Regions from separate parts of the Homo sapiens genome. Here all the other regions are linked to region 2. Evidence: fine-mapped expression QTL. A gene starts in region 2. Each other region holds a variant in brackets. All regions are shown on one strand. Distances are from middle to middle.

Region 1 (4,189 bases), 35 kb after region 2:
GCAGATTGATGAAATAGCACTGAATCCATAAATTGCTTTGGGCAGTATGGCTATTTTAACAATATTGATTCTTTTTATCCATGAGCATGAAATGTTTTTCCATTTGTTTTGGTCATCTCTGATTTCTTTCAGCAGTGTTTTGTAATTCTTGTTGTAGAGATCTTTCCACTCCCTGGCTAGCTTTATTACTAGGTATTTTATTCTTTTTCTTGACTATTGTGTATGAGATTGCATTCTTGATTTGGCTCTCAGACTGGACATTCACTGTATATTATTGGTACATAGAAATGCTGATTTTTGTACATTGATTTTATATACTAAAGCTTTACTGAAGTTATCAGTTCTAGGAGCTTTTGTGCAGAGACTATGGGGTTTTCTAAGTATAGAATCATATCCTCTGCAAAGAGAGATAGTTTGACTTCCTCTCTTCCTATTTGGATGCCTTTTATTTCATTCTCTTGCCTGATTACTCTGGCTAGGACTTCCAGTACTATCTTGAATAGGAGTGGTAAGAGTGAGTATCGTTGTCTTGTTCTGATTCCCAAGGAAAATGCTTCCGGCTTTTGCCTGTCTGGTATAATTTTAGCTGTGAGTTTGTTATAGATGGCTTTTGTTGTTGCTTTGAGACAAGGTTCTTGCTCTGTCACCCAGGCTGGAGTGCAGTGATGCAATCACAGCTCACTGCAACCTCTGCCCTCCTGAGCTCAAGTGCCTCCCACCTCAGCCTCTCGAGCAGCTGAGACTACAGGTGTATGCCATCACACCTGGCTAATTTTTGTGTATTTTGTAGGAACGGGGTTTTGCTATGTTGCCCAGGCTTGTCTCCACCTCCCAAAGTGCTGGGATTATAGGTGTGAGACACTGCACCTGGCCCATAGATGGCTCTTATTATTTTGAGGTCTGTTTCTTCAATGCCTAGTTTGTGGAGGGTTGGAAGGGTTGTTAAATTTTATTGAAAGCCTTCTGTGCATCTATTGAGATAACCATGTGGTTTTTGTTTTTTTGTTCTGTTTATGTGATGAATCACATTTCTTAATTTGCATATGTTGAGCCAACTTTGCATGCCAGATATAAAGCCTGCTTGAGTGTGGTGATCGTGGTGGATTAGCTTTCTGATATGCTGTTGGATTCAGTTAACTAGTATTTTGTTGAGAATTTTGCATTTATGTTTATCAGGGATATTGGCCTAACATTTTCTTTTTTCATTTTGCCTCTGCCAGGTTTTGGTATCAGGATGACTCTGGCCTCACAGAATAAGTTAGGGAGTAGTCCCGCCTCCTTGATTTTTTGGGAATAATTTCAGTAGGATTAGTACCACGTCTTTTTACATCTGGTAGAATACAACTGTGAATCCACCTGGTCCAGGGCTTTTTCTGGTTGGTAGCTTTTTAATTACTGATTCAATTTCAGAACTCATTACTGGTCTGTTCAGGATTTCAATTTCTTCCTGGTTCAATCTTAGGAGGTTGTATGTTTCAAGGAATGTATCCATTTCTTCTAGGTTTTTTAGTTTGTGTGCTAAGTTTTTAGTTCTTAATAGTCTCTGAGAGAATTTTGTACTTCTGTGGGGTAGGTGGTAATGTCACCTTTAACATTTCTGATTGCGTTTTTTTGCATCTTCTTTTTTCCTTATTAATCTAGCTAGTGGGCTACCAGTGTTGTTTATTCTTTTGAAAAACCAACTTACGGTTTTATGATCTTTGTGTAGATTTTCACATCTCAGTTTTATTCAGTTCAACTCTGATATTGGTTATTTTTCTCTGCTGCTTTTCTTTCTTTTGGGGTTGTTTTTTTTTTCTTTTAGTTCCTCTAGGTGTGATGTTATTTTGTTAACTTGAGATTTATCTAACTTCTTGGTGTAGGCATTTTGCACTATAAACTTTCAACACTGCTTTAGCTGTGTCCCAAAGATTCTGGTATGTTGTATCTCTGTTTTAATTAGTTTCAAGGAATTTTTTTATTTGTCTTGATTTCATTCTTTACCTAAAACACATTCAGGAGAAGATTGTTTAATTTCCATGTAATTGTATGGTTTTGAGAGTTCTTCTAGGTATTGATTTCTGTTTCTACTGTGCTATGGTCTGAGAGTGTGGTTGGTATGACTTTTTTTTTAATTGTTGAGTATTGCTTTATGGCCAAGTATGTGATTGATCTTAGAATATGTGACATGTGCAGATGAAAAGAATGTATGTTCTGTGGTTGTTGGGTAGAGTATTCTGTAGATTTCTGTAAGGTCTATTTGGTCAAATGTCCAGTTTAGCTTCCAAATACCTTTGTTAGCTTTCTGCCTTGGTGATGCATCTAACACTGTCAGTGGGGTGTTGAAGTCTCCTGCTATTATTGTCTGGTTGTCTAAGTCTTGTTGTAGGTCTCTAAGAACTTGTTTCATGAATATGGGTGCTCCAGTGTTTGGTGCATATATATTTGGGATAGTTAAGTCTTGTTGAATTGAATCCTTTATCACT[A/G]TGTGATGCCCTTCTTTGCCTTTTTTGATCATTGTTGGTCTAAAGTCTGTTTCGTGTGAAATAGCAATCCCTGCTCTTTTTTTTCCCATTTGCTTGATCTTTCTCCATCCTTTTACTTTGTGCCTATGGGTGTCATTGCATGTGAGATGTGTCTAATGAAGAGAATACACAGTTGGGTTTCATTTCTTTTTCCAACTTGCCACCTTGTGCCTTCTAAGTGGGGCATTTAGCCTATTTACATTCAAGGTCAATATTGATAAGTGAGGATTTGATCCTGTCATTATGTTGTTAGCTGGTTGTTATGTGGACTTTATTGTATAGTTGGTTTGTAGTATCAACAGGATATGTGCTCAAGTTGTTTCTGTGGTGGCAGATACTCATCTTTTGCTTCTAGGTTTAGCACTGTTTTAAGGACTTCTTGTAAGGCAGGTCTGGTAGTAATGAATTCCCTTAACATTTGTTTGTCTGAAAAAGATTTTATTTATCCTTCACTTAATGAAGTTTAGTTTGGTTGGATATTAAATTCTTGGTTCAAATTTCTTTCATTTAAAAATGCTGAATATAGGCCCCCAGTCTCTTCCAGCTTGTAAACTTTCTGAAAGGTCCACGGTTAGCCTGATCGGGTTCCTTTTGTGGGTAACCTGCCACTTCTCTCTAGCTGCCTTTAATGTTTTTCTTTTGTATTGACCTTGGAGAATCTGATGACTATGTGTCTTAGGGATGGTCATCTTGTATAATATCATCTCACAGGGGTTCTCTGAATGTCCTGAATTTGCATGTCAACCTCTCTAGTGTGGTTGGGGAAATGTTCATGGACAGTATCATCAAATATGTTTTCCAAGTTCCTTGTTGTCTCTCCATCTCTTTCTGGAATGCCAATGTGTTATAGGCTTGGTCTTTTTACATATCCCATATTTCTTGTAGGTTTTATTCATTTTTTAAAATTCTTTTTTCTTTATTTTTTTCTGCTGTATTGGTTCAAAGGAGTCGTGTTTGAGCTCTGAGATTATTTTCTTTTTTTTTGTGGGATAGCAAACACTTATTTGAAGAACTTTTAGGATAAAATTTAGTTTACCTCTGATAAAGCTGAAGAAAAATGATTGCAGTTTTTATGCATTAAATGATAAACATTGCCTTTGTATTCTTTTCCCAGTTCTTCTACAATTTTTTCTATATCATCTTCTAGGAAGTCCGTGCTCCCTAAAACAACTTCTTTAAATTTAAATGGTTCTCCTAGTTCAGAAGCATTTCCTGGGGAAATTTCAAATATTCCAGAAAAGGGGTAAGGATGGCCACCATAAGCAAATTCTCTGCCATAGACTTCAATTTCTGAATGAAAAACTCCAATTCCAATGGATGAGGTATATTCCTTCATCCAATACATGTCACACACGTTGAGCACCACTAACTGGTTAGCCCCCATCCTCCTCCCCGCGGCCGCCGCCTAGTCCTCAAGCCGCTCGGTCTCCGCGGGGCCGGAGGCCGCTCCCACCCCCGCGGGCGCTTCAAGGGGCCTGAGCCGGGCACTAAGCGTACAGCCCTGCCCGTGGCAGCCGGGGCAGAAGCATCGGGCAGCCAAGCCACTCCCGGGCGCCAACGACAGGAGCCTCTGTGCGGACAGGGCCGGACAGCTGGCGGCCCGCTCCGGATGAGGCACCTCCCCTAGGCGGCAGACACATGGGGAAAAACTGAGCTCTGAGACTATTTTCTAAGCTTGGTCTATT
Region 2 (4,189 bases):
TATTTTGTGCTGACCTCCTATCTCATCCTGTGACTCAGAATGCCTTAACTGTCTGGGAATGCAGCCTAGTAGGTTTTAGCTTCATTTTACCCAGCTCCTATTTAAGATAGAGTTGCTCTGGTTCATATGCCTCTGAAAAAACCATTTAAATTTAATTATAAGAGTCTGGCCAGAGGGGGTGGCTCACGTCTGTAATCCTAGCACTTTGGGAGGCCGAGGTGGGTGGATCACCTGAGGTCGGGAGTTTGAGACCAGCCTGAACAACATGGAAGAACCCTGTCTCTACTAAAAATATAAAATTAGCCAGGCGTGGTGGCGCACACCTGTAATCCCAGCTACTCAGGAGGCTGAGGCAGGAGAATCGCTTGAACCCGGGAGGCGGAGGTTGCAGTGAGTGGAGACTGTGCCACTGCTCTCCAGCCTGGGCAACAAGAGTGAAACTCCATCTCAAAAAAAAAAAAAAAAAAAAAAAATTTAAGAGTCACAAATATGTGAAAAAGAGAATGATGTCTTTATCAATTTTCAAAAATTACTATTGCCAGTGATGAATAACAGTGTTCCTTGCACACTAATTTAGCCAAAAATATTTCTCCAAAAGTACCGCATCGTGTAGGAAATTGACTCCATCTCCATTCCTTGACTATTTTCAATCTCAAAATTAAATCTCTTGGAGAGTACTTTCTGCACACCTTTCTATTTCCTTAACCATATATATCGTCAAACCATTGAAAGCTGGACTTTATTCTCTCACTTTCATAGTCATGAAAAGAAAAAAAAAAAGTTACTGATGGGGACTCCTAAGACTTCGCATAATATAATCTTTGCATAGTCTAGGATTGTTAAAATTCCTAACAAGACTTTATAAACTCTCCTGTCTGCAACCAGTTAATGCTGGGTTGGGCCAGGGTTCCCCTCTTTCCCGTCACTTATCCATCTACGCTCATTCTTTTCATAGCCTCACCCAATATCATGACTTGAAGTAACAGTTTACAGTAATAACTCCCAAATTTATATATCCACGCTCGAACCCTCTGCCAATGTTGAATCATAGGTTGAGTATATGGCACTACGCTTTGTGGTCTTACTGACGTTTCAAACTGATCATGCTTGAAATGGGAGTACTGGGCTTCCCGGCAAGCCTGCTCCACTAGCAGCCTCCCCACCTCAGGGTACGGGAAGTCCACACGTGGCGAACGCGAAGCCTATTACATCACCCGGAAGTCCCTGCATCCTACGAAGGCTGGGCCCGGCCAAAGGAGGCCCAATAGAGGGCGGTCTGTCCTTTCCCAGCAGGCTGGGCACACTGTCAGGCGTCCTCCTTTGGGTGGCTATTTTAACTGCTCATTTATCCTTTTCTTCTATGAAAAGATCCAGAAAAGAGGCAAAGCAAGCGAGAAGTCGCGGGCCCAGCCCACAGCAGGGTAAGCACCTTTGTTCGGGGTCTGAATCGGGGCGAATATCCCCGCCTCCTGACCTCGATTTTCCTGAGCTAGAAGGGACCTTTCGACCCTCCGACTTGTGCCTATACTAAGGCGGTGGCCCTAAGACGACGCGGGGGTTCTGGTGCGCACTTACGTGCAGTCGGATGCGCTGGGTGAGTTCCCACACCCGGTAGATGTAAGGGAAAAACTGCATTACCCAGAAGGCACTGCCCCTTGCGTCGGCCGCGGACTCTGGGCCATTGACGACCCAGGACAGGAGAGTTTTCTGCGGGCCAGGGCGGCGGAGGCGGGACTTCCGCTTCTTCGTGTGACGTCATCTCCGTGGGCCGGTTTGGCCCTGAAACAGTGTGGGGCCTAGAGCGCTGGGTGGGCGCGTTCTGCGGCCTGAGCAGGGACGGGTAGTGAAGCGGTTACGCCCCTTCTTCGCGTCTTGGCGGGAGCCTGACGCCCCGCTTCTCCCCTAACGAGGTGTCCCACCGGCGCCCGCCGAGGCCTAGGCCTCCGCAGCCGCCCTCCGTCTCCTCAGCCCCGACGCTGCGCCTTGGGCCTTGTGCGCATTTTTTTCGGGGGAAAACTGAGGCTCGGAGTGCGAAAGTCAGCCGAGGTCGCCCCGCCCAGGACAGAGAAGGGCTGTGGTCGGCTGATCCGCGGCATTCCCGGGATGGCGGCGGCGTGGATGGCTCCGGCGCAGGTGAGTGGACGAGGTTTCGGCCTTGCTGCTGCTGTGCTATTTCTAGAGGCCTCGTGGGCAGGCTGGAAGCCAAGACAGCCACAGGATTTTTCTTTGTCGCCATCGTTTATTTAAGAGAAATGGCCGTGGCTTGTCATTTCCTTTATCCGCAGTCCTGCAACAGTGTTGGCCTCTGATAGGTGTTCAGTCCGTGGTTGAAGGAGTGATGCTTCCTTCTAGGGATCTCATCACACTTCCCCTAAATCCAACCTTCTCTGTTGCCTGCCAGCCCGTACCCCATCCACCTGGCCAACCACCCCTGACCTTGTCTGTTTGCATTTTTCCCTGGTCCTTTGCTCTTCAGAGCCACCAACCTGACCGTGCAGTCCTCTTCCATTTTCCAGGCTTTCTCCTTGCACTTCCTTTTACTTCGAACACTGCCCCTGTAACTTTGCAGGGCCTCCCTTTCACATCCTTTTGGCATCTGTCCAGGTGTCACCTATTTGGAGGTGCCTTTTTTGGCAATTCCGGCTAAAGTGGCACCTTACACCCTTGCCCAGAGTCTGGTATTTTTGTGTAGATAATCTGATGGTATTAAAGAAGCTTGTGGATTTGAGTTTGTCAAGGATGTAATGGGAACAAAGAAAAATAATTGCAAAGAATGATATTAACTGTCATTGAGTCCTTGCTGTGGGCTGATCGGTGAGTATTATTTAACCCTCAGTTCGTTTAACCCTGAAATTTTTTTTTTTTTTTTTTTTTTTTTTTGAGACGGAGTCTTGTTCTGTCGCCCAGGCTGGAGTGCAGTGGCGTGACCTCGGCTCACTGCAACCTCCGCCTTTTGGGTTCAAGCGATTCTCCTGCCTCAGCCTCCTGAGTAGCTGGGACTACAGGTGTGCGCCACCACGCCTGGCTAATTTTTGTATTTTTAGTAGAGACGGGGTTTTACCGTGTTGGCCACGCTGGTCTTGAACTCCTGACCTCAGGTGATCCACCCATCTGGGTCTCCCAAAGTGCTGGGATTACTCTTTAGAATTAGGTTCTGTTGTCATCATTGTTTTACACAAGAGCAATTTGAGGGTCACATACGTCCAATTACCTGCCTTACATCACTGTAGCTCTTAAGTTTCTTAAGTCAGAAACTAACAACTGGTGTGTCTAACATCATAGCCTGTGTTTTTACCCTCTTCTTTACCCGCAGTGGTTAGGGAGGCCTGGGGGTGAGACCTAAAGTAACCTTTGCAAGATGAGGCCTCCTTCTAGCCAGTGATCTTGGGCATGAGGAGTCATGGCCTTTCATACTGGTGGAACTGTGTAGACTTAAAAAATGGTATATTGGTTGTTTAAGGAGTTCTCAGGGGACCTGTGTGGCTTCCACGGTGGTTTTATATGTGGTTCCCCTTACTCCCTTACCTGCTGACATATTCTGAGAGGGCACGTTTGTATGGTTATGTTGCTGAATGTACCCTCCTACTCAGCCAGGATAGATGTAATCTCCAGATGGGCCCATATTGTCTTGGCTACAACCTGCTGTGCCCTCTATGACTCTTGTTGCTTGCTCATGGAATCTTCTGGCCTCAGGGATGCCTGCTAGTAGGACTTAGGTAGAAAAGGAAGCGATGGCTCATTGTGAATTCTCCCTGGAAGCAGGTCCAGGCCCTAACACCTGATCAGGTGTCACCACGTCAGGTGATTCTTTGGTGAGGTGGATGATGATGACTACACTTCTCTGCCCTTGTCCATGGGAGTGGCTGAAATGTATATGTGGATTTGAAATGCTTCATTCTCATTAACTGCATTAACTTTGCTAATAGAGAAATGTCAGGTTACATAATCAGACCAGAGGGCCCTGGGCTTAAATCCTGCCTCTGTTGATAAGACCTGTGACTTTGGGCTGGGCTTGGTGGCTCACACCTGTAAACCCTGCACTTTGGGAGGCTGAGGTAGGTGGACTGCTTGAGCCCAGGAGTTCAAGACCAGCCTGGGCAACATGGGAAAACCCTGTCTCTACAAAAAGTACAAAAAATTAGACCGGCATGGCATCATGTGCCTGTAGTCCCAGCTGTGCAGGAGGCTG
Region 3 (4,189 bases), 36 kb before region 2:
TATATAAATCATGCTTATAACATGTAAAACTCTGGCTGAACTTGGTGCTCACACCTGTAGCCCCAGTGCTGTGGGAGGCTGAGGTGAGAGGATCACTTGAGGCTAGGAGTTCGAGACCAGCCTGGGCAACATAGCAAGATCCCAGCTCTACCAAAAAGAAATAGTTGGGCGCAGTGGTGCGTTCCTGTAGTCCCAGCTACTTGGGCGGCTAAGGCAGAAGGATTGCTTGAGCCCAGGAGTTCAAGGTTACAGTGAACTCTGAGCATGCCATTACACTCCAGTCTGGGTAATAGAGTGAGACCCTGTCTCTGAAACAAACAAACAGAAAACACAAAAGACTAGGAGAATCTGTGGAGCTCCCTTAGCCTCAGGTCAGTGACTGTGACATGGAGGTGATTGGCGGTGGTGTTTAGTAATACTTCAGGGGCTGTGGGAGGATTAATAAAATCCCAAAGTCCAGTAAGCTCTGAATAACTCATGTCTGTTATTGGGAAAATGGGAATTCTGTATTCATCTGAAAATTGAGGCAGAGATAAATGAGGTCCCTGAGGTCACAAAACTGGCAAGTGTCAGTTTCAGGAGTTTGGATTCAAACTTGAGAAGTCTGACTTCAGAGTTTGGGACTTGTAGTTGCTTTAAAACAGAACATGAAGCTTCAGCATGAGCTGGACCAGTGAGGCTCAGGCACTGTGGTTGTCAACATTATTGCTATTATTATTGTCACTATTTCCTCATTTCTTTGAGGTCCTCGAACTCTAATTGTCTACATCTCGCCATCCACGAGTTATTGCCATTGTCTTCTGTTATTCTTTGATGGCTCCTATATAGGAGGCTTTTCTCTTTTACATTACAGTAATCTGTCCAAAGCAATGTCTGCCTTCCTCCTTCAGCCTGGTACAAAGTTAGGCCCTCAGGAGGCCCTCAGTGACTTGGGCCTTGATCTTGTTGCACCTTTTCCAGCAAAGCACATGCAATAGTCCCACAGCAAACTCTACTACCTCTATTTGACATTTCAGGTGTCTGTGACCTTTGATGATGTGGCTGTGACTTTCACCCAGGAGGAGTGGGGCCAGCTGGACCTAGCTCAGCGGACCCTGTACCAGGAGGTGATGCTGGAAAACTGTGGGCTCCTGGTATCTCTGGGTAAGGCCTTCCCCCTCCACCATGCAGGGGATCTGCCACCTCCTTCGTTCCACCCTCTGACTCCAGGCCTGATGGGTCAAGAAGTCCTCTCTTACTGGCCTTGCCTCCTTCCCACAAATTCAGTCATTTTCTACAACACTCACCTCTTCCTTTTTTTTTTTTTTTTTTTTTTGAGAGGGAGTCTTACTCTGTCACCCAGGCTGGATGCATTAGCACGAACTCGGGTCACTGCAACCTCCGCCTCCCAGGTTCAAGCGATTCTTCTGCCTCAGCCTCCCAAGTAGCTGGGAAGCTGGGATTACAGGTGCCCACCACCATGCCTGGCTAATTTTTGTATTTTCAGTAGAGATGGGGTTTCACCATGCTGGCCAGGCTGGTCTCAAACTCCTGACCTCAGGTGATCCGCCCGCCTCGGTCTCCCAAAGTGCTGGGATTACAGGTGTGAGCCACCACGCCTGGCCTACACTCACCTCTTCCTATACAGTCTCCATGCATCGCTTTGGACAAGAAATAAGAGTACTCTTTGGCTCTCAGCCAAAGGAGAGAAGCTGGTGGAAGGAAATGGGGTGTTTTGCAGACCTCAAAGGTAGGATTGCCAGCTGTATGTTATGAGGGGTTGAAGTAGGAACTGAGAACCGCCACGATGGGGTCCT[G/A]GTTTCTCTGTCTGGGTCTGCTCATGTCACTGTCTACTCTGTATGGTTTTTTCTGCCTCAGCGAGTTCAGGGGAAGAGTAACCACCCCAGGTTTTACTGTTTGTGACCCCTCCTTCCCCTCCAGATTTCTTGTCTGTTTCTCTGGCCTCTGTGGGGCGTGTTTGAGGCAGCAAATGCTGCTCCACCTCCAGCTCATACTTGCCTCCATCTCTCACCCACTGCCCAGCATAGACTGGCCTCTGTCTGCAGTTTTTTTTTTGAGTTCCAGAGCGGGATCTGCCTGGGTGGGCCTGGTTGCTCATGTATCTGCTCCACAGCCCAGTCTGTGGTGTAAGGGTTGGTGGGATGTTCACTAAGAAGGGTTGAGTCAGGCAGGCCCCAAGGAGACATTGACCTTCCGTCCCACCAGGTGTTATTCTAAACAACCTTCACGTCCTTCAATCACCTTCACATCCTCTGATTCTAAAGTCACTCTGCTGCAGCCTTGCTGGGCTTCTTGCTATTTCCCCAAGTGCCCACCCACCTCAGGCCATTGCATTTGCTGTTCTCTTTGATGAGTGTTCTCAGGGTAATTCAGCATTTCACATGGCCGCCCCTTCTCAGCACCACTTGCCTCCTCACCCAGCCCTTCCCTGACCACCGAATCTTGGGGAGGCCCCTTTCTCACCATAGCCTCCTCCCTTTACCTTTTTAATGTCTTTCTAAGCTAGTGTTTCTCAAACAGGGACGATGTTGAGCTTCAGTGGACACTGGGCAATGTGTGGAGACATTTTGGTTGTTAAAACTAAGATGATGGGCCAGGTGCGATAGCTCATGCCTGTAATCCCAGCACTTTGGGAGGCCGAGATGGGCGGATCACAAGGTCAGGAGATAGAGACCATCCTGGCTAACACGGTGCAACCCTGTCTCTACTAAAAATACAAAAAATTAGCCGGGCGTGGTGGCGGGTGCCTGTAGTCCCAGCTACTCGGGAGGCTGAGGCAGGAGAATGGCGTGAACCCAGGAGGCGGAGCTTGCAGTGAGCTGAGATTGCACCACTGCACTCCAGCCTGGGCGACAGAGCGAGACTCCATCTCAAAAAAAAAAAAAACCTAAGATGATAACATTGACAGCTAGTGGGTGGAGATGCTGCTAAACATCCTTATAATGCACAGGACAGATCCTTTCTCCTCCTCTTCCCCCGATCTCACAAACAAAGAATTACCTGGACCTAAATGTCAATTGTGCTAAGGCGAGAAGCTCTTTTTCAGAGAGTGCTTGGACAGACACTACATCAGCTGGTGCTGAGAGACACTTGAGGAAGTTGTTCTTTTATTTCTTCTCGTCTTGTCTCCTTAGCATTTGAGGAAAACTCTGGTTTAGTGCTGAGACTTAACGTCCTGCAAACTGTTGGTAATTTCCCCTTTTCTACAGAGGGAGCAGCCTTAGGCTCACAGCCCTGAACAAGCAGCATGAGCTCACAGGGACCAAAGAGCACTGTTTGTTTGTCTTGAGACAGAGTCTCGCTGTTGCCTCGGCTGGAGTGCAGTGGTTTGATCTTGGCTCACTGCAACCTGTGCCTCCTGGATTCAAGCATTTCTCATGCCTCAGCCTCCTGAGTAGCTAGGATTACAGGCAGGTGCCACCACGCCCAGCTAATTTTTGTATACGTTGTTTTGATTTATTGCTACATTTTCATGGTTACCTGCCATCAAGACAAGTGACTCTGGATTTTCCATTTACCAGAGTGATAAGGATTCCATTTTTGAAGAAATCTAAGAAAAATAAAAAGTGGATCACTTTTAAGAAAAGCAGCCCGGGCATGGTGGCTCATGCCTGCAATCTCAGCACTTTGGGAGGGCAAGGCAGGCAGATCACGAGGTCAGTTGATAGCGACCATCCTGGCCAACATGGTGAAACCCCGTCTGTACTAAATATACAAAAATTAGCTGGGTGTGGTAGCGCATGCCTGTAATCCCAGCTACTCAGGAGGTGGAGGCAGGAGAATCACTTGAACCAGGGAGTTGGAGGTTGCAGTGAGCTGAGATCGCGCTACTGCACTCCAGCCTGATGACAGAGCGAGACTTCGTCTCAAAAAAAAAAAAAAAAAAAGAAAAGCAGTTAACAGTCCAGATCCCCAGAGCACTGATTGGGTGTCTCAGGCCTGTTCCAGGCAGTGTTCATGCTCCATTTATTCTCACAGGATCCCTGTCCTCAGCAAAGTAAGGAAAATTTAGCCACTCCTGTGAGTCCCTCATCCAGTTTAACTTACTCAGCACAGATGAAACACCTTCATTTTATGAAGCTATCACTGAATGTTTTTGTGTAGAAAAAATTCTTCTCTTGTGAACTTTTTTTTTTTTTTTTGAGATGGAGTTTCACTCTTGTCTCCCAGACTGGAGTGCAGTGGTGCA

What was found. PIP is the estimated chance that this variant, and not a neighbour inherited with it, causes the effect.
Region 1: its variant is the best candidate, but not a certain one, in a credible set for the expression of ZNF460-AS1 in fibroblasts (GTEx, PIP 0.68).
Region 3: its variant is the best candidate, but not a certain one, in a credible set for the expression of ZNF460-AS1 in blood mononuclear cells (TOPMed, PIP 0.65).

The regions. Positions count from the first base shown.
Region 1 is chr19:57,313,675-57,317,863 of GRCh38, forward strand. It overlaps the pseudogene LOC100288211. Among named protein-coding and RNA genes, the nearest start is that of ZNF543, 4.7 kb to the right of the region's middle. RefSeq lists a silencer at 3,807-4,101. The variant A/G (reference allele first, on the strand shown) is at 2,466.
Region 2 is chr19:57,278,704-57,282,892 of GRCh38, forward strand. ZNF460-AS1 (ZNF460 antisense RNA 1) reads right to left here and starts at 1,631. Exons shown (of 3, transcript NR_136529.1): 1 at 1,576-1,631. ZNF460 (zinc finger protein 460) reads left to right here and starts at 1,782. Exons shown (of 3, transcript NM_006635.4): 1 at 1,782-2,133. The coding sequence starts at 2,104. RefSeq lists enhancers at 978-1,917, 1,032-1,623, 1,041-2,240, 1,624-2,215, 3,144-3,263 and a silencer at 2,638-2,687.
Region 3 is chr19:57,242,907-57,247,095 of GRCh38, forward strand. It overlaps ZNF805 (zinc finger protein 805), which reads left to right. Exons shown (of 4, transcript NM_001023563.4): 2 at 1,017-1,143. Among named protein-coding and RNA genes, the nearest start is that of ZNF805, 4.4 kb to the left of the region's middle. RefSeq lists an enhancer at 3,135-3,429. The variant G/A (reference allele first, on the strand shown) is at 1,797.